2 linked regions of the Homo sapiens genome follow. The protein of the gene in region 2 interacts with the protein of the main gene of each other region in a biochemical or structural test. Each region holds a gene or a part of one and is shown on either strand. Other genes may lie near its edges.

Region 1 (4,512 bases), on a different chromosome or scaffold from region 2:
GGGAAAGTATTTTGAAGTCAGGCAGTCTGGTTTCAGGCCTTGATTACACCACCACTGGGCTGGGACTTCTTCCTTAGCTGAAAGTACCTTTGGGCTGCTAGAGGCAGGAGGCAGAAGTGAAGAGGAGGGAGGTGTCAAGTCCCTTTACCAGTCTGCTTCATACAGAGCAATCTACTTTTATGTATTTAATATATTGGACTCCAAGATATTGCTTCAAAGAAAAAAAAGTTTGAAAACCACTGGATTAGAGACTCCAAGGTCTAAAAAGACTTCTCTATTGTGTATATTTAAATCACATCTTTGATATTGATTTAACTAAATTTTCAATATGTTTTTGTCAATCTAAAGTTTTTGAGAAGATTTTTAAAAACAACCAATTTCCTCAAAGATCAAAGTGGAAATATAAATAGGAAGTGTCTCAAAACTTTGCAAAGTCAGGATACGAGCTGTACTGAAGAGAAAACAAAGGAAAGAAACTGAAATAAAACAGATGACACATCTTTTTCAAATGTCACATTTAATGTTTTCACCACTGTACTTCAAATCTACATTGTACAAAGTGACCAGAAAGTGTGCCACGGTAATTGACCAACCTCTGAGATTGTACCTTTCACACCAGTGTCTTCTTGGGCTCTTTTGATACTAAACACGTTTCTCATTCAAGTGAATTGAAATGCTTCAGTTGGGTTGATTCTCAGGAGCCTCATAAAAAAAAAACAAAGATATTGCACCATCTTTGTTTAGTAATTCAATGTTTGTTTCTTTCACAGCAAATAATTACTTCATTGAAGTTAAAACTTCCAAACATAACTTATTAATAGTCTTCAAATTCAGCTCAGATCACTCAAGTTGAAAATACTCTGCTAAATACAGATAACTTACAATAACTTTAACAGTTAATTGTCCATAACACACACCAAGGTTTTTTCCTAGACCAATTTTAAGACGATCCATTAGTATTCCTTGTACAGGTGAAAAATGATCTTCAATTTTCTTGTCTTTTTATTTTTAATATAAAAGTTGGAAGGGACATTCAAGTTTCAAGTCTCCACACTGAACTCAAAAAAAAAAAATAGTCATCATCAGCATGTGGAGGTAAACAAGCCAAGTTGTATAACTCCAGGAGGTAGAGGCCTTCGATTTGTATTCATATGTACATATGCACAGAAGAATTCAGTGTTCCAACAGAAAAAAAGAACTTGTCAAAAAGTAATAAGTTATTTACTACTGTGACATTTCAAGACTCCCACAGCTTTGCCTAAGGACACAAACACATTTGACATAATTCCCTATGTGCCTTTTTTTGTGGCTTAAATTTTTTTTTAAATTTGTTTTTGTCTTTTATTATTTTTTTACTGTCCAGTGCAGGAAAAGTCTCACAAAATTTCACAGACCTAAAATGTGCAAGCTAGTTCTCTTTCTATACAGCAATATTGGGATTCTTTTGAAATTAGCCCAGAAATGAATTATTTACACACATGAAAGATGCATGCTTGGGGTTCTTTTATGTAAGAAAGAGCAGAAAAACTTCTAATAAAAATAGATTAAATATATATATATATATTTATACTGGGTAAGGAAAACAAAAGTTTAGTCTCTCCTAGTCACAAACTCATTCTCTCTACCCACAACATTGGATTTTAGACAGCACACATCACCATCACGGCTCTAATGAGAAGCTAATTATAGGGCTTGATCATTAGGTGGCATGCCCCTCCTCCCTACCCTCCCCCCAGGTGCAGCCACGATCAGCTCACGTGGCTCCATGATTGGTCGCAGGCAAGGTTCCTAGATTCTTTAGTTTTAGAAAACCCCAAATCTTTAGGAATGGCTCAAATATCAAAATGTATGACTGTCCTTTGTGTTTGTGTGTGTGTGTGTGTGTGTGTGTGTGTGTGAACAATCTCACTTCATTTTAGAAAAGAAAAACAAAACATAAAACCCCAAACTCCCAAATTTGGTTCAATTCTCTTTTGTTCTGAGGTGAGCCATAACAGCTGCACTAAATTCATAAAACATGTGCAACTCTGGGTAAAATATTTTTCTTCTAAAAGCACAACCACTTTACAAGATTAAAAGTCTAGTAACATTTCTAAATATTATTCATATCATACAAGTAGTGGTTGTTAATTTAAAACTTCATTAGTAAAATTACAGTACAAGCATGATTAACCTCCAGAATTGCAAATCCCAGACTCCAGTGGAAAGCTACATTACATCTTCAGTAGTACATTATCTTCCACCATCACTCCCACACCAGAGGAGATGGGGGCATCTCAGATGGCTGAGCAACAGTGGAACTGGAAGAAAACAGAGATGGAGAAATTAGTTGTAATGTCACAATGGACAAAAGGGTAATTCACTACTTCCTGTTTTCCTCTCTTCCTCTGAAAAAATTAATTCCACTTCTGGATTTTTATTTGTTTCTTTGAAGTTGAATTTATTCTAAGTTGCTTGTTTATGGACCTGTTATCTATGGAGAGGCAATCTGGTATAGTGGCTAATATGTAGGCTTGAAAACCACATGTCATTTACTAGTTGTATGGCCCTGAGCAAGTGCCTTAATCTCTTCTCATTTGGAAAGAAATAATGCTGTTTACCTCATAGGATACTGGGATGAATAAATGATAATAGATGTGAAGTATTTTCCACAGTGCCTACTTCAAAGTGTAAAGTAAATGTAGGTATTACAAGTAATAATTTCAATAATCAATCAGGAAAATAACCTTAAGGGATGTAGAATCATCCATTTAAAAGTAGCCTCTCAAAATACAGTGGCCTATTTTGAATGGGCCTTATAAGCATTCTTTTATCAAGTATTAATGGAGAAGTATAGGTAATCATTTAGCATTGGTGATCTAGATCTGTTATTGGCTTTTTCCTATGTCTAAGATTGCTAATTAGATTATAAACTTGAGAGGGAAAAGTGTAACCCCTTGTTTCCCCAAGGCCCAGGATCATTTGCACCTAAGCTGCTAAACTGCCTAACTGACTGGGTCACTGACTCTTAGGGGAAAATAGTAAAACAAAGTAATTTAAAACCACAGATAAGTAAAAGTGCAACTTAATTCCTTCTTCCAATAGAAAAATACATGGAAGAAATGAAAGTCACCTGATTTTGCAAATTTTAAGCATAAAATCTTGACTGTGGTCCAACAAATCCAACCAACTTTAATATGATTAAAGGGAAAGGGCAGCAGGAAGAGAGAAAAAGGAGAGGAGAAAGGCAGCGGGGAAGATAGAGACTGTGTGACCACTCATATCCGAATCCACCCTTTGTCCTGCTTTGTGATACTGGAGCCAGACCCTGTTCATGGTTCCCCTTTGCCACCTAGCTTAATGTTAGCTTTTGTCAACAGAGGGTGCTGGAAGGGCATTTGCAAGGCTGTAGCATCAGGAAGCAGTCTCCCTTCCTTGGTTTGTTGTGCCTGTTTTTGGTCATGTGGAAGGCTCAGCTTTGGTCCACCCGAACTCTCCTGGCAGGCAGTCTTTGATGGACCAGTTCTGGCCACACCTTCTGGCACACTTCCTCTTCTGCACCACCCTCGTGCTGTGTGTTCCAGTTCCTGTGGCAGCCATACCCTCTCCAAAGAGGTCCTTACATGAGGAACCTCTTCTAAATTCTTAATTCCTTTCTTGTTTACTCTCCCTCAGTCTACAGGGAGTGGCTGCTTTCTGCATTTGCTACTTCAGCAGCCTTCAGAATCCTCTTTTATGCCTTTTAGCAGTTGATCATCTTTCCTAGTTAACAGTTCTTATTACTGAATTTTCCCCGTTTGTATTCTAGGGAAGTGGTTTATTTCTCCCGATTAGACCCTGATCAATATATAAGGAGTTAAGGAAAAAGAAATCAAGAGAAGGAAAGGACAGACAGACAAGGAGAATGAAGCCTGGTAACTTCCAATGTAGGTTCATAGCTCTACCATATGCCTTTTGACTTCTCCTCTAAATAGGCTACACCAGCAGTCCACCTACACACAAAAAAATTATTTTCTTGCTTGCAGTTATTACTAGGGAGTGAGAATGGTAGTGGGAACTGAGATGACCACGTCTAACTCCAGGACAGGTGGCCACCATACTAATGCTGCAGCAGGACTGCCATATATGTGATGAGGCAGCACAATGGTCATCCGGGGAAAAAATTGCCAAAGCAACCGCAGTGAACTGGCACCAGTGTAAAATGTGATGCTTACAGTTTTTTGTTTTTTTTTTTGAGATGGAGTTTCGCTCTTGTTGCCTAGGCTGGAGTGCAATGGTGCGATCTCGGCTCACCGCAACCTCTGCCTCCCGGGTTCAAGTGATTCTCCTGCCTCAGCCTCCCAAGTAGCTGGGGTTACAGGCATGCACCACCATGCCTGGCTAATTTTGTATTTTTAGAAGAAACAAGGTTTCTCCATGTTAGTCAGGCTGGTCTTGAACTCCAGACCTCAGGTGATCTGTCTGCCTTGGCTTCCCAAAGTGCTGGGATTACAGGCATGAGCTACCGCGCCCAGCCCAGATGCTTACAGTTTT
Region 2 (6,851 bases):
AATAATAAGCTCTTTGAGAAGTATACGGAAACACTAACATAATTCCTGTATGTCTCAGTCTAGATGAGAATACTTTTAACATTTGTTTTCATCTTAAAAGTTTTTGTAAGTGCTGTGAAATCTCATTTATATATGAATACCATTCTCTCTAACTTTGCTGGCTGGGGACATAAGCTGCTGGTGTTTTTTTGTTTTTTGTTTTGTTGTTGTTGTTTTTTTTTTTTTTTTGAGACGGAGTCTGGCTCTGTTGCCCAGGCTGGAGTCCAGTGGCGTGATTTCGGCTCACTGCAACTTCTGCCTCCTGGGTTCAAGCAATTCTCATGCCTCAGCCTCCCGGGGTGCACACCACCACCCCCGGCTAATTTTTGTGTTTTTAGTAGAGATGGGGTTTCACCATGTTGGCCAGGATGATCATGATCTCTTGACTTCATGATCCACCCGCCTCAGCCTCCCAAAGTGGGATTACAGGCATGAGCCACCATGCCCAGCAGCTGCTGGTTATTAAGTGCTGCCAGTTCTTTTATTTAGTAGAGGTTTTATTACCTTTTCAAGTATATCTTGGTTATGAAAGGTATAAGTTAGATATAATTTTTAAATTTTTTCTGGGTTATAAGTTGTGCTTACCTATTTGACAGAAAGCTAGATGAATAATATTTTGAGACTATTTCATCACTCAGCTGACACTCAAGTGTCTATCTCTCTGTAACCTACCCTCCCACACTACACACACACACACACACACACACACTCACTCTCTCTGTCTTCTTGGATACTGTGTCAGCTCTTTGCTTAGGCTAGGTATACAAAGATGAAAATGACCTGACCATTGCTCTCAAGTATCTCACAATCTTGGTGGTAACAAACGTGTTAACTAGTAATTACATACTATGTAATAAGTACAATAAAAGTAGAATAAGAGCTAGTGTATTCCCAATATGTTCTATATTTCCTGTTTTTATGTAAAAAAAACTTGAGAAATAACATCTTTCTTTTCTGTTTAATTCTGAAGATCCTGACCTGAAGCAGGAGCTACAGTGGTTTCCCCAAAAGGAAGATTTTTGTTTAGTAGCCTAGAAAGAAGAAATTGCTATTCTTTACTCAGTACTTGCAAATGTATAATATTGTTTTGCCACAACATGAATTAATTTAATTAATGTATCTATAGGGGCTAGGAGAAAATTATGACAATAATGGACAAGTATAAAAGATGGGTTTCCTATATATAGGGAGAAAAAGGAATTGCTATAAATGACTTTTTACAACATTTTAAAAAACAATTTAGTCCCAGCCACTTGCTTTCTTGGAAGAAGATATTCGGGAAGTTTTAAAAGAAGAAACTGGAACAGACCTATTCCTCAAAGAGGAAGATGAACCTGCTTACAAAAGCTGCAAACAAGAGGTAATCTTCTAGTATTATTGTTAATAAAAGTCTTATTGTATCCAAGAGACTTTGCCATAAAGCTTCTACATAAATTACTCATTCTAGAATACCGCTTCTGGGAAGAAAGTCAGAAAATCACTAGTCTTAGATAATTGGGAAAAAGAAGAATCAGGCACTCAACTGTTGACTGAAGACATTTCAGACATGCAGGTTTGTAAAGGATTATTATTGTTGTTATTTTAAATGGTTGCTTTAAGTCCTAGAGGTTCTTATTTCTTACTCATTGTGTAGCCAGTTCATTAGAAATTCATGGAGAATTTTTATCTTAGTATCATTTTGCCTAATTCACAGAGAAACTATTCACTGTAGAGAATATTTTATTTACTTTTTTTTATATTTCTTTTGTTATGAGAGGAGTTAGCTGCCTTATATCTGATGTCAAAAAATCGTAGTTCTCAAGATTTTAAATATCAAAGTTTATCTTTGGTTCATTTCCAAAATAATATTACTACATTACTAGAAATTTCATCAGAGCCAAATGCTTTCTTGGAGGGAAATAAACAGGGCTTCCATTACCACTTACTCAGTAGTCCCTCCATTTGTCTCCATTTTTGAATTAGTTATTTTCCTCTTTCTTTTTTCTCTCTTAGTCAGAAAATAGATTTACTACATCCTTATTAATGATACCATTATTGGAAATACATGACAATAGGTGCAACTTGATTCCTGAAAAACAAGATATAAATTCAACCAACAAAACATATACACTTACTAAAAAGAAACCAAACCCTAACACTTCCAAAGTTGTCAAATTGGAAAAGAATCTTCAGGTATGGATTTATAAATTTCTTTAGTGATTTTTGTTTTTGTTTAGTCAATGATCACTTTGGATTTACTGATCACAAATTATACTTTTTCTTTTAAATTCAAAATTGATTGTAACAGTAACTAAACATTTACCATTATTTTATCACTCACATTTGGGTTTGAGCGACTCATTCATCAGGGCACATATAAACTAAACAATTGAAGCTGTAACCAAAGACTGGTCTGGTGATTTCCTAAGCACTGTATCTTTTTTAAACTAAAGATATATAAATCTACTTCTGGCACCTCTTCTCCTGTAACAAATATGTATAGCCCTAATTGCTATTCTGAAAAAGGGTAAGTGGTTGGAAGCAGTTTCAGCATGATTTTGTTGGTACCATGGTTTCCAGTGAACTTTTTGGCTCAGAAGTTGTAAAACAAAGTCCTTTTTTTTTTCTGTTGGGATACGACCAGTGTGTAACTGCAAATGAAGGTTGGAAAAATTTTTACTGCATTAAGAGTTTACCCCAGAGAATTTGAGAGTTCATTGAGTAGGAAATTTTCTTCTTTATGCCACAGTGACTGCAGCACTAGTATTCCTGATATTGAAGCATACCTTGAAAACGTCTTTGGCAATTACATATGACCACCTTACATCTGTTTTCAGCCACTGCTTTCTAAGAGCCATGTAGCACATTCTCTTAATCCATGTAAAATGATTTGAGTTCCTGGCGTTTAATTAACATAGAACTTTTGGGGAAAGTTATTATATAGAAGATCACATCTATAACATAGTAATCTTTAAAATAAGGGAAGGAAAAAAACATAAGCTTGATTTTTTGTTATGAATATATTTCCTAATTTGTAAATAAAGCATTCTTGGCTCATTTTTTGACATTACATCCTCTCTTTAAATCTTTTGCAAAATTTTGAAGCAATAAAGACTAACATTTATTTCCATGTTAAGACTCATTTGATTTGGGGGGAATTATTGGGGACAAGACTTTTAAACTGCCTCCATAGGCCTGTAAGCAATATAGATAGCTAAAATAATTGACTTTTTAAAAACTTGATAAAAAATATTTCAGTATATATTTTAAAACATTATTATTAAAAAAATACAGTGCCATTGTTAAAACATTTTTATAATTATTGTTTATAAAATATCTAATCAGTTAAAATAACTGACTTTAAGAGTCTAATTGTGATATAGATAGCTATTTTAATAATTTTCATGTCACTATTAATATTTCCTTTCTAGTCAAATTGTGAATGGGAAACAGTGGTTTATGGGAAGACAGAAGACCAACTTATTATGACTGAACAAGCAAGAAGATATCTGAGTACTTACACAGCTACCAGTAGTACTTCAAGAGCTCTCATACTGTAATTGTTATTAAAATTGATGAAATGCCCCACTCCCTTACTGCAGTCTCTACTAAATTAGGTTGCAGTGAAATTTTTCTCAATTAGTTGTTTTTAAAGTTGTAAGATAGCCCTTTTAATACAGCATCTTTTTTCTATTCTATATAGTAGGCAGAAAGCTAGTAAGTCACTTAAGGGGTAGATAGTTTCATAGTTTATTTTTTAAGAGATGAGATTTTTAAAAATTGTTTTTAAAGAACAAGATGGGAAAATAATAGAATGTTCATGGATTTCTAAAAGTAAATTCTCATATATTTTCTTCACAAGATATATGTTGCTACTCTCTTGATGCTGCAGTTTTGTTATAGATAGGTGTATGAGTATATATGATTTCTGAAATTAGTCTATGTATGGAAAGCACACATGATTTTATGAAGTACTTTTGCCCATGTGCTGATTTACTTAGGCTACCATTTACAAAGAAACACATTGAAAAGGAATTTAAAGGAAGGATAGAAAGTTGCACTACTAATTTTTTGTTTTTTTTTTCAGAAGCAGTAAAATTAACTACAGTGTTAAATGTATTTATTTGAGCATAGTACTGAAAACAAAAAGCATTCAAAAAAGAGTTTTTTCTTTATTAGTAAATAGTATTTTCTTAATCTCAGAGGAGCTGAGAGTTTTGTTGAATGTATTGTACAGTATGTAGGAGCAGGAGAACTTTGTAAATTGGAAAGAAGTCTGTTTTTATAATTTATTTTTATTTTTAAAGCTTAAATGTAGATATTTATACGTATACAGGGTGCCTAGAAGCCAATGTTGTTTCCTGTTATTACAGCTAACACAGTAAAGAATAATTTTGACTTTAAGTATGAAACAGTAGTAAGTTATAGCTGCAAAGAATACAATATCTATACTGTATGTCACATCTACCTAAATGTTGCACTATGCCCTTTAAATCATGCTGGTTATAAAGTAGTTCTAAAAATGTACTAAATAATAATTTAATATTTTCTTTTTAAATTATATCGGGGGTGGTCATATACATTAATCTGGTGATTTGTATATGTGTTTGAAATTTTTGCATTTTGTTTAAAAAATAATATGGTACCTTGGTCCCTAAAAACAGTCTGCACTTAGAAGTTTATATTTACTCAGTGTTTCAGAAGTGGAGAACATTATCTTTTATTTATAAAAATATTTTGTCCTTTTTTAAATGTTTTGTGTTTCTCTACAGGTTACAACAGTTGCTTCAGTTGCCTGTTTTAGGTGTTTGCACTTATTTTATTTCTTCTTGAAAGAATTTTTATTTGCTTTTGTGGTAGAGATTATATGTAATTTTTTTTCAGTCATATAATGGTGTGCTGTCAACTTAAACACTGACAGGTAAATAGAATTGTACACTGTAGTTTGAATTATTTATAATTGACACACTCTCTCCCTCTCCACTCCTGAAGTATGCTGCTATAGAAAATAGCAGAATCGGCTTGCTGCTACGAGAGAAGGAAAGAGCGACCACCACTTGCACTGTGTGAAAAGATAAAAAACAAATGATGGCAAGTTCTCAAGTTAACTAAATGGAATCAACCATTACCAGGCAAATTCTTGCAAATACCAAAATACTACTATGCCTTATAAAACAAAATGAAAGCAGGTTAAGATTTTCTGCTCTGTTTGTATGTTAATAGAAATGGAAATACTAAGTATTTTAATGCTTAGCTCTTGAACAGTAGACCTAAAAGGGTTTTAAGCTATTTAAATCTACTTGCTAGTTTTTGCATATTTTATATATATATATATTTATATATATATATAGTGAGAAGTGAAGAAAATGTATGGTACTAAGATTATGCCTTATTGATAAATAGATAAACCAATTTGAATCCTCTTAGCATGTTTAAGTATGTTGATTGCTTTCTAATTAATGAACTTCTCACAGAAATTTCACTTAGTGAAACCAATGATTGTAGCAAACTCATACTGGATCATTTCAGTTACCTTGAACTAATAGCACATAATGGTTTTTTGTTGTTGTTGTTTTTAATGTAGCCCTTACCTGGATATACATAGTCTGCAATCACCAAAGTATAATATCTTGTAAGGCTATATTTTTTAAAGCATATTTTTTCTTGAGCATTAAATTATCCTAAATGGTAATATATTGTGGATAAGTCTGGGCTTATTGGACATAATACATATTTGGGTTGGTACTGGTTGAATCCTTCAGTTAACTGCTTTGTTGCTTTTTGCAAGATTTTTTATCTTAAACATGTCAGGCATCTTAAGTCACCTTTATACTGTTTTGTTCCTCTGAGTTTCTTTCAGTATGTTATACAAATGCCAGACATAACATGTAGCAGCCATACTTGCATGGAAACTGACTACACATACATAATACTGCATTTTATTGTAAGGTTTTCACATTAATACAGCAATTACCCTGACTAAATTGAGTTTTGTGATATATGGAAAACTTCATTGTAAGAGAATCTTGCATACAATGTTGACATATTAACATCCAAAATAAAGCATCTGTGTACAAGCTGACTTGGCATTGCTCATTCACTTGGTTTTGTGCTTTATAAGGACTGATAGAATCCTTAGAGACTTAACATTCTGTTCTTAGGCCTTTTTTCTCATTTAGAACTCTCTTTACGGTGATTTTACCAATAAATACAACATTGCGCCTTTATAGAGCCTCATTTAAAACCAGATTTCCAGCTGTCTTTCAGATACTTTCACATGACACTTCCTGTTGGCGCCTTAAACATATGTTCAAAGCAGATTTCCTCTTTTTCCCAACTTTGACCTGCCCTTTGTTCTGTCACTTAGTGGTATTGCCTTCCCTTCATTTACCCACTGAGTAATCACCCACCTCCACATTGAAGTCAGCTGTGAATTCTCAGCCTGCATATGGCCTCTGTCTCCATTCTATAGAAATGTCAAGAAATTGAGCAGTGGCATAAGGGTGTCATCTGGGAAAGGCACACTGGTCATCCAGGCAGGGCTGTTTGGTATTCTATTACCTCGGTAAATTCATCACCATCTAGATTCTATCTTTAGCCTTGTAGGCTCCGAAGTCTGAGGAAATTAACTCATTAAAAGTGAGTTTACCTCTCAGTAGAAGGCTTACCTCAAGTTTATGACTGATATATGAAATTATAATGCCAGTCTCTTAATTTATAGCGTGAAATAAAACTGAGAGGACTAGGCACATTTTCTCCTTATATGTAAACAGCAACAAATATAAAAAACGACGTTCCATAGTTCTCTGTTGCCTAAATAATAATAATTCTCC

The links.
Region 1: the proteins of MYBL1 (region 2) and NLK form a complex in vitro, tested with the Homo sapiens proteins (one study listed by BioGRID).

What each region holds. Positions count from the first base shown.
Region 1 is NC_000017.11:28,192,370-28,196,881, reverse strand, and holds the end of NLK (serine/threonine-protein kinase NLK), read right to left. Parts: intron 2,301-4,512; coding exon 2,246-2,300; 3' UTR 501-2,245; downstream 1-500. UniProt on the Homo sapiens protein: Serine/threonine-protein kinase that regulates a number of transcription factors with key roles in cell fate determination. Positive effector of the non-canonical Wnt signaling pathway, acting downstream of WNT5A, MAP3K7/TAK1 and HIPK2.
Region 2 is NC_000008.11:66,561,424-66,568,274, reverse strand, and holds the end of MYBL1 (myb-related protein A), read left to right. Parts: intron 1-1,009; coding exon of another isoform or gene 1,010-1,021; exon of another isoform or gene 1,022-1,276; intron 1,277-1,282; coding exon 1,283-1,399; intron 1,400-1,486; coding exon 1,487-1,591; intron 1,592-2,031; coding exon 2,032-2,211; intron 2,212-3,449; coding exon 3,450-3,578; 3' UTR 3,579-6,100; downstream 6,101-6,851. UniProt on the Homo sapiens protein: Transcription factor that specifically recognizes the sequence 5'-YAAC[GT]G-3'.